Homo sapiens: one gene and its partner. The protein of the gene in region 2 purifies or fractionates together with the protein of the main gene of each other region. This does not show direct contact. Each region holds a gene or a part of one and is shown on either strand. Other genes may lie near its edges.

What was found. Proteins that work in one complex are often made in the same cells at the same time.
Region 1: the proteins of CD82 (region 2) and CD46 purify together in Homo sapiens (affinity purification with western blotting, with the first as the bait; one study listed by BioGRID). This does not show direct contact.

Annotation. Positions count from the first base shown.
Region 1 is NC_000001.11:207,781,966-207,787,054, reverse strand, and holds part of CD46 (membrane cofactor protein isoform 3 precursor), read right to left. Parts: intron 3,764-5,089; coding exon 3,725-3,763; intron 1,985-3,724; coding exon 1,949-1,984; intron 1,437-1,948; coding exon 1,373-1,436; intron 1-1,372. UniProt on the Homo sapiens protein: Acts as a cofactor for complement factor I, a serine protease which protects autologous cells against complement-mediated injury by cleaving C3b and C4b deposited on host tissue.
Region 2 is NC_000011.10:44,606,489-44,611,577, reverse strand, and holds part of CD82 (CD82 antigen), read right to left. Parts: intron 1-5,089. UniProt on the Homo sapiens protein: Structural component of specialized membrane microdomains known as tetraspanin-enriched microdomains (TERMs), which act as platforms for receptor clustering and signaling.

The DNA.
Region 1 (5,089 bases), on a different chromosome or scaffold from region 2:
CTGCTAGCTAGAGAGAGTTTGATTAATACTTGTTAATGAACCTTTAAAAATTCTGATGCAGTGATATTTTAAACAAAGAAGGAAAATAAGCAGAATGCGACTTTGTTTTGTTTTCTTTAGAACTTGTTTCTACGCAAACCTTATGGATTTGTAAAAATATTCCATTGATAATATTTTGTACTCACGTTGTAGATATGTAACTTTTAGAATATACAACTGATAGATAAATCAAATATGCATATCGTGTTCCATTAATACAAGATTTAAGATTCAAGTGAAGGGATTATGGGTATTTCAAAAGATAACCAAGTAATATGAAAAAAGTTTGAGTTCCTTATGAGTAAAGCTTGTACTTTTATGACTTAGCCCAAACCTGATGATCAGTATAAAAGGAATATATATCATAAAACCATGAGTACCAAAAGTCTTAAAATTATTAGGTTTGATTTCAAAGCTATTTCTAAAACTATAGGGGAAAACAGTTTTTAAAAATCAGTAAAAATGAATGTATATTATCTTTCAGAAATTTCAAAGCACCTAATCTTAGTCTGTGTTCCAGGATTCATTCTAAGTCTTTTGTTAAACTGTAAGCTCTTTAACTAAAATTTGAGTTTGATGTTTTAAAACCCTATTTTCTTTAGAAGATATGTACTTGTACATTTTTCTTCTATTCTAAACCCACTCACTTTTTACATTTTTATATATTAAAAGACACAGTTAATTGAGGTACCTTATAGATCTAACCCCTCTCAGCAATTTTAACTTTAACCCTATCAGTTTTACTGCAATCTGGTAAATTCAGAGAACATAAGAGGGAAATCGGATAGTGTTGTTTTGAATCCCCCAGTTTAACATGTATAAATAACAACTTTAAATGAAAAGACACCAAATTGGGTATTTAAATGATATGCCTACATAGCTTCTTGCAACTAGCTAAGCTATATAGACAAGTGGAAACTTTCATTATAAAAATTCCAGTGAATACAACTGTCAAAGTCTCCACAGTGAAATACTTTAAATTTAATTTTGGCCATTAGTGCAATTTTGGAAATAGGGAATAGGGTAGAGAAGGCCTCATAGTGAGTGGTCCATGATTTGCTAAATAACTTAAACCTCAAATCCAAAAGAAATTTTTCTTAAAGTCATAATAGCTGTAGGAACTCTGCACAGATGTTTTTATGTTGCAGTGATGTTAGAAGTAGCTGAAAATATTTTTAGCAAAGAAATGCAATTGGTAGGACAAACTAATGCAGGCATTTTTTTAAAAAAAAAAAAAAGATAGCATGCAATACAGATTACAAACTGAAGCTGCACAAAAGCATGTTAAGTATAAGAAGGACCAAGAAGTTAAAAGAAACATGCTTTAATTTACCCTTTCTTCTTCCTCCTTTGAAGATATCTGTACGGGACAACACAAATTACTGCAACTCCAACAACTATAAGAAACCAGGAAACAAATGACATATAATTCTGAAAACTAATCACCAAGATTCAACATCTAGCAGAAGAAATAAATGTTGGTTACATTTCAGTGGTCAAATGTTATTTAAGCACCTACACATTTATATTCCATCCAGACTCTTTGCTATCTAAATCCAACTCCCCATAATCACTTACACAGTCCATAGTAAGTCAGAGAAAAGTCCTTGCTTAATTTAGAAAACTATCAAAAGCACATTTGGGAAGCCAACTAATATTACTGATCATCTTGAGAAAATATGTATTACTTAGGCTTTGTTACTAAGTAGATATACAGAATATAACAGAGTATAAAATCACTAACACAAGGTAGGTAGTTAAGTATATCAAATAAAAAGTCAGGTTTTCCTAAATCGGTTTAACCAATTTACAAGCTGAAAAAACTATAGAAACTGAAAAACTATTTTTAAAATGCATGTCTTCACAATAATTTTTTGACTTAAGTGGTGTCAAAATTTGTGATACTTACCTATGGCAATAACAATCACAGCAATGACCCAAACATCTGAGAAAGAAAACAGTTCCAAGATGTTGAACACATGGATCTCCAGATAGCATTTATTTCAATCAGATCATCTAAACACTTGATATGGTTTGGCTGTGTCCCCACCCAAATCTCATCTTGAATCGCAATTCCCATAATCCCCACGTGTTGTGGGAGGGACCCCATGAGAGGTAATTGAATCATGGAGGCAGTTTCCCCCATGCTATTCTCATGATAGTAAGTTCTCACGAGATCTGATGGTTTTATAAGCGGCTTCCTCCTTCACTTGGTTCTCATACTTCTCCTTCCTGCCATCATGTGAAGAAGAATGTGTTTGCTTCCCCTTCCTCCATGATTATAAGTTTCCTGGGGCCTCCTCAGCCCTGCAGAACTGAGTCAGTTAAATCTCTTTCCTTTATAAATTACCCGGTCTCAGACTGTTCCTTACAACAGCATTGAGAATGGACTAATACAAGACTACAGAGGAAAAAAAAATTTTTTATATAGTTTTAGCATGACTGCTAGGGCATCCAGGTCATTTTGATCATAGAACCCTTCTAACCAGTTTCCAGGTTAAGGGTTCCACTTGTGAAACTCTTAATGGGAACCTCATTTTTCACTGTTTTTCTCTATAGCTACCACATCAGGTTATTTAGCGGTAAAGTTATTAGAGTAATTAGAATTCACTATAGTAAAGGAAAATGATTTTTGAAAAGTATTATCCCATGAGAGTTGGTTTAGTTCAACAGTCATTCTGTCATTTCTTATTTTGGTAGACATTTAATTTGTATTTTTTCCTCCAAAAGTGATCTGTAGAGTGAGTCATAAATAAATTTCTATTATTCTATTGCCCAGATGGTATTTACAAAGTCTTCACAAACAATACTTTATCTTATCAATCCCCTTCCCATCCTCTCTACTTCCATACTCTGCCCTGCCCCAAAATTAAGACATAGTCCTAAATACCAATAGGATTCCCATAATAAATGAAACACCAGGGCACATGGATAAAAAATATACAGAGAAATTTGAGAATACATTTTTGACTATCTAGAGAACACAAAATAATCCTATAAAATCTTAATTTTTAGAACTGTTTCTGTCCCTAGTACCTTTGCTTCTAAACTGCCATTACTTTTATTAAATTGCTATAAGTCAAAGCATAAAGTGCTATGTTCAACTCTGCTCTTCTCATCTCATAAACAGTTATCAAGTGTTTAACAGTTTAAGATGGCAACAGATTTACTTGGACCACAGATTTTGGAGGTAAGGCAAATACTAAAAAACAAGCCTAAGGTGCATTATATAAAATGATTAACCATTACCAAACTAGTCTAAGAAATGAAAGGTAATAGATTTTTGTTTTTACTTATTAAGAAATCTTTATTTTTCATTGGCCTATATCACAACTGCACTTCATCTTTTTTTTTAACATGCATTGTGTAAACTGCGTAAGCCTACATCAAGTGTGTTAAATCAGCGTGTTACAGAAAAAATAAACCCAACTTAGATTGCTTTAAGGTTCATGTATATAAGATATGAATAGAAAGAAAATTTATCGACAGATTACCATCACAAAATAACAATATAATGTGGAAAGAAAATTGTGTTTTATATATTTTAACCTACATACAAACACAGCATTTAAGAAAGTTATCTTACCCTACCAAGGATCCTATGTTTGGGCACCTCATAAAAACTAATTACCTACACGTTTCTACACATACTACCACTTATATTTGTCATGATAGCTATACCAACCCAAACTGTCAAGTATTCCTTCCTCAGGTTTAGGATATCCTAGGAAAAAAGAAGAAATATAGATTAAATTAATAAAAGAAGGAAAGAATTAAATATAAAGCTTAAAATCCTTTAAACTCATAGGGTGATTTTTTTTCACCTTTGTAGAAAATCCCTTAAAATATAATTTTCCTTATAAACTATATTAATGTTTCTCAAAGTAGTATCATAAAAATTTATAAACTTACATTTAATGTCATAATCTTTCTTCTTCCTCCCCACTCACATTTTCTGTGACAACATTCTGTGGTTCAACATGCAAATTTATCTGTACTATTTTCTCAAAATTAGTCTATAAATCCAATGTGATTCTAATTAAAATTAAAAGATAGAGGGATTAGCCGGGCACAGTGGCTCACGCCTGTAATCCCAGCACTTTGGGAGGCCGAGGCAGGCGGATCACGAGGTCAGGAGTTCGAGACCATCCTGGCCAACATGGTGACACCCCGTCTCTACTAAAAAAAAAAAAAACAAAAATTAGCTGGGTGTGGTAGTGCGTGCCTGTAATCCCAGCTACTTGGGAGGCTGAGGCAGGAGAATCGCTTGAACCCGGGAGGCGGAGGTTGCAGTGAGCCGAGACACAGCCACTGCACTCCAGTCTGGCAACACAGCGAGACTCTGTCTCAAAAAAAAAAAAAAAAAAAAAAAAAAGAGGGATTAATAAAAATAAATGCTTTAGAGTTGACCTGAAATGGAAGGAAACTTCCTCAACATAATAAAGGCCATATATTAAAAACCCACAGCTAACATCATACTCAATGTTAAATGAATGAAGGCTTTTTCCCTAAGATCAGGAACAAGACAGGGTGTCCATGTTTGCCACTTCTATCTGACATAGGACTGAAAGTTCTAATCAGAGCAATTAGGTAAGAAAAAGAAATTCAAATTAGAAAGGAAGAAATAAAATTCGCTCTGTTTGCAGATGACATGATCTTTTATTTAGAAAACCCTAAGGATCCCACATATACACACACATGCAAAAATCTCTTAGAACTAATAAATGAATTCAGTTAAGTGGCAGGTTACAAAATCAACATACAAAACTCAGTTGTATTTCTATACACTAACAATGAATAATCTGAAAAGGAAATTAAGAAAACAATATCATTTGTAATAGCATCAAAAAGAATAAAATACTTAGGAATAAACTAAGGAGGTGAAAGACTTGTACACTGAAAACTACAAAACTGCTAAAAAAAATTAAAGATATAAAATAAATGGAAAGACACTTGTGTTTATGGATTGGAAAAATTTAGTATTTTTAAACTGTCAATACTATACAAAGCAATCTTCAGATTTAGTGCAACCCCTATGAAAATCCTGATG
Region 2 (5,089 bases):
GATGTAACCACCCTTCTATTTCTCCATGGAGCTGAGGAGGCCCCACTCCCTCGATGCCAGAAGCAGGCAAAAGACCTGGGCTGCCACTCAGTGCCATCCACATCACAGGCACGGCGAGTGGTTCAGAGATGGGCTTGAGACCCATGCTCACATACCCGGCCCTCTTTCCATCAATGTGGTAGGATGAGGACCTGGGCTACCCTCAGGCTCCACTGGGGACAGCCTGCCCGAGAAGGGAGCCAACAGAGGAGGGTAGGGCTGAAGGGTGAATAGGGACAGCAGCAGCCTTTGGGATCCAGCTGAGCCTTCTGCTGGCTCTGGCTACTTTCAGTTGAGTCACTGTCACATGCCATAAAGAGTCCTGCCCAGGGCCAGCTGCATAATTTACACCTAGTGCAAAGCAAAAATGCAGGGCCCCTTGTTTAAAAATTATTAAGAATTTCAGCTGGGCGTGGTGGCTCACACGTGTAATCCCAACACTTTGGGAGGCCGAAATGGGCAGATCACTTGAGGTCAGGAGTTCGAGTTCAGTCTGGCCAACATGGTGAAACCCCATCTCTACTAAAAACACAAAAATTAGCTGGGCCTGGTGGTGTGTGCCTGTAGTCCCAGCTACTTGGGAGGCTGAGGCAGGAGGATCACCTGAGCCCAGAAAGTGGAGGTTGCAGTGGGCCGAGATCATCCCACTGCACTCCAGCCTGGGCAACAGAGCAAGACTCTATCTCAAAAAGAAAAGAAAAAAAAAAGAATTTCAATACAGCAACAGCAGATTATCCTGTGTGACTGCATAGGTTGAATGCCGAGGAAGCCAGCCCTGTCTTCCCTGTCTCCCTCCTCCCCATTTCTCAGAAGAGAAAAATGAGGCTCAGAGTTGGAGCAACTTCCCAAGATCACATAGATAGAAAGCAGCAGAGACATGACCAGACCTTGATCTGTGCAGCTCCAGGGACCCGGGATCTTAGCCTCGGCAAGCTGCCCAGGGCCTCCCCATGACCCTGCTGTCCTCTGCATGGCTCTACTCACGTCCCACCCAAATGCTGAGCTTTGACTTCTCTTTTAGTGTGAATTTTCACAGAGTCAGAGTTAGGAGAGACCTTTGCGTCCAGCAAATCATCCAAATGTAAGAGTCATGCTTTTTTAGGCTCTGCTTAAATGCTCCCTGCGATGGGGAAGTCAGTACCTCACACAATAGCATGTTGCGGAGTTGAGAGGCTCTGATACAATTTAAGTTCTGCTCAAATGACTTCTACCCACTTGTATTAGTTCACATCCTCCTCCTCTCTCAGCTACCCAAGTCCCAGCTAGGACCACAGGAACAAATCAAATCCCTCTCTCGAAGGACACATGTCATCCAGATACTTGAGACTAGACTACATCTCCAGGGTAACTTTTCGGGCTCCTGTGCCCGCCCCTTGGGGTGCTGTGCAGACCTCTTGCCATGCTCTTTAAGGTGTGAAATAGCCCCTTATAATAAGGTATAAATGCATGAATTGGACCCACATCTTCCTGTCCTCTCCAGGTTTCCCACATGAGATGTTGGCAAATGCTTTGCTAGAATACAGATACACCAGCTCAGAGGCTGCATCCCAGTACCCTGATAGGAAATGAGGGCGCTTCCTGCATCTTTTCTGCAAGTCCAGCTGCAATCCACGTAATTAGCTACCCCAGAATGCAGAGCCAGTGACCAGCGTGTGCTTCAGAGATTCTAGCCCAAGTGTCTTTCCATAATCCCTTTCCAGAGGGGTAGCCTGGACTCCTCCATTCCCTTCTCAACAGGGGAGAGAAAGGTCACCTCTCCCTGTCCCAGGCTCCAGCTGCTCTTCCTCCCTCTGCCCCATCGCAAGAGAACCCCAAGCCAGAGAATCAGGAAGTTCTAATTCAGCAAGCAGACAGTTCACAGAGAACCACACTGTCCCCTAGGAACCCGTCTCGCCACCTGTGTCTCACACATGAGGGTATGTGCGCACCAACAATTTGGGGCTTTCAGGGTGAGAGCAAGGAGGACAAGAAGGAAGTCACAGTTCCCCTGACCAACATCTCTGGGGAGTTGTCTGGCCAGCCACTGCCACTGTCACAGCCCCCACCTCTGGCTCCCAGCCAGGCCAAGTGAGCCCCTTCCCCTCCAATGTCTTCTGCTTGAGCGTGACAGCACTCAGAGCCTCAGGGGCCTCCCTGGCACAGGTATGGCCTGCCAAGTGCACCCAGCTCAGCACCCACACACCACAGGAAAGGGCAAACTGCATTCACTTCCTTCTCACTCCTCCCACCTCCACTCTCTAGAGAGAACAAGTCAGAATCCCTGACTGCCTGCACTGGGCATGGCCCAAGAGCTCGCCTGTGGATCAGAGAGTCTGGGTAACTTATCCGAAGCCACACAGCAATCAGCGGCAGAGCCCACACTAAAACACAGGGCCCCTGAATCCCAGGGCTGGGCTCTGCTCACCAGAGGCTGGATAAACAAGCAGATGAGGATCTTAGCACCGTGCCCAGATCCCCATTCCCGCAGCCCTTGCTCTGCTGACAACGAGGGCAGCAGGAACAGCTGCCACCTATTGAGCCCTTACCAGGCCTTCATGAAGTGAATAATGGCGGCAATAATAATAAACACTGGCAATGATGCCAGCAACATCAGCCTCCGGCTGAGTGCCGCACGACGCCCTTCCCGTTTGTTAGTGCTCTTCATCTCTGAAGTGCTGCAAGGCAGCCCCTGGGGGCTCCGGCTCGAGACAGGATCAGATTTTAGAAAGGGCCTGGAGGGACAGATCACACCCACTAGTGGGGGCTGGGGCAGCAGCCTGCAGTGAGTCTCATTTCTATTTCCCTAGGGACACCCGAATGGGGCAGGCAAAGGCCATACATAGCCTTGCTTCTGTTCAGGTTCAATTTTGCCACCAAATTAGTTGCAAATGCTACTTTTGGTTTTTAAAGTGTTTCTTTGGATTTCAGAATTGCAGAGAAGGGACAGTGGGCCTATATTGTTACTAGTTTGACAAATGTGGAAACTGAGGCACAGGGAGGCTGAGTAGCATGCCCAGAATGTCAGAGCAGTGGTTCCACAGTCAAGACCCTTGGACACCATTCTGCATTTTCACAGAAGTGTCACAGTCTGTGTTCACTTCAACCTGAGTGGTAGAGCAGGGAGAGGCAGATTTATTCTCAATTTATAGAAGCAGAACCCAAGGCTCCAGAGGTGACAGGCCATGCCAAGGTCCCCAACCTCCCCATCGCTGCCCTGAGAAGAGTGGCTGCGGGTGACAGAGGCAGGAAGGACAGAGGGCAGCCCTGGAGACCACAGCAGGGTCACTCCCACCCACCTGCACGGGAGCCCTATCTCCTTTCAAAAGGCCTTTCTTTTCCTTAGGTTCAAACAAGTCCCACCCCCACGCTGAGCCTTGTCTGCCAGAATAAACACATCAAGAGTATGTTTAGTCTTCCACTGAGATTTATGATGCGTTGCGAAAGAAAAAAATATATTGTTCATTCCAATTCGGGCGATACAGTGGCACCAGAACTTCTTCAGCAAAGCCAGAAAATTTCCCCCTGCCTTCCAGAAAAGATGGTGGTGGACTAAGGTGAGGCAGGCTGGGACTAGGGGGTGTGGACTCTGAAGGGGAAGACAGGGGCAGGGGGTGCAATGCACAGAGCTTGGCTGGGGTCGAGAAACCCAAATCTCCAAACAAGTCCTGTTCTGGGGCTGATAGGACACCTCTGAGGCTAAGCTCCTCATTATCAGCCAAGCAGAGTTACCCAGCCGGCGGGAGGGCAGCGTGGTGGATAGGGAGGCATGGGCCTTGGACTCCAAGGCATCAGGATGGAAATCCCCACTCTGATGCATCCAAGCTGTGTGTGTCAGTGGCTGAAAGTCACTTTGCTTTCCTGGGCCTCAGTTTCTTCAAATGGAAAATGTTTGTAAATTTGAACATGTATTGCAGCTCACTTTTCTAGCTCAGCTCCTGGCATGTGGTTGGTGCCAACCTGGTGGGCCATATTTATTACTGTGAGATGGTGAATCACATAGGGTGGACTGCCCAAGATCCCTGCAGAGGCGACCAGCTTCTGAGTCATAGAAACCGGCTCACTGGGGCCTGGTTCTAATCCACCCTGATTATATCACTAACTAGGTCCTAAAGAAGCTCAGTGCCATAGGACAGAAATGAAGACCTGACCCCATGACCATTTTTCTGGGAAAGGAATTTCCCTCCCTTAACTGCTGGCTTCCTGTCTCACAGCCAAACAAGCTGCTTTTCATCTACAAAATCCACTATTTTCCACTTTTGCCTTGACTGCCAGGAAGCTCAGTGCCCAAGTTAGCCCTTAGCTACCAAGAGTATCTTGTCTTGTGAAGTTCCATTAAGTTCTAAGTTCTATTAAATGTTATTTGTTGATGTTGATGTTGGTATAGTGTTTTCTCAGTTTCCTTCCAAGAGGGATCTCAGGCAACTTGACCTTCAAGTGGTGAAGGGCAGGAGCCTATCTGGCTGCCGGCTCTGCCACCCTCCCTGGTGGACAAGAACTGGTGGCACTGGAAGCAGGGACCCTAAGGGTCTGCTAGGCCACAGGCCATGTGCAGCAGGGTCTGGGGACGGGTGAACTCAGGACTCGGAGTCAGGGAGCCTAGGCTGTCCTTACTCCTTCATCTGCAGGACGGGGATTCTCCCACGACCTTGAGAGGGCCTAGTGAGGATCTGCGAGAGGAGGAGTGTAACGTGGTCAACACTGTACTTGGTATATGCTGTGCATGGACTCAACTGGAGGGATGGTGGGTGTTAGAGTCACTGTTATCTATGTTGTTATTGCTCTTCATCTCAGAGCATCTGCTTCTCCATCTGTCAACATAAAACCCTGCAGAGCCATTGTGAGGACAAGACGCTGTATGGAAAGTTTCTAGAAGATCCCACGTGCACACAGTAGGTGCTTCTTACGTGATAACTGTGACTCACAATTAACTGGCTCACCCAACAGCCATTCTTGGCTCCTTTCTCTCTTGTGCCTCTGTCTTTAGAGTCTGAAAGTTGGATACTCACATTCTCAGCCTCTTTTGCAACCAGGGGTGGCTTTGTAACCCAGTCTGGGGAAGTCTGTTGGAGGA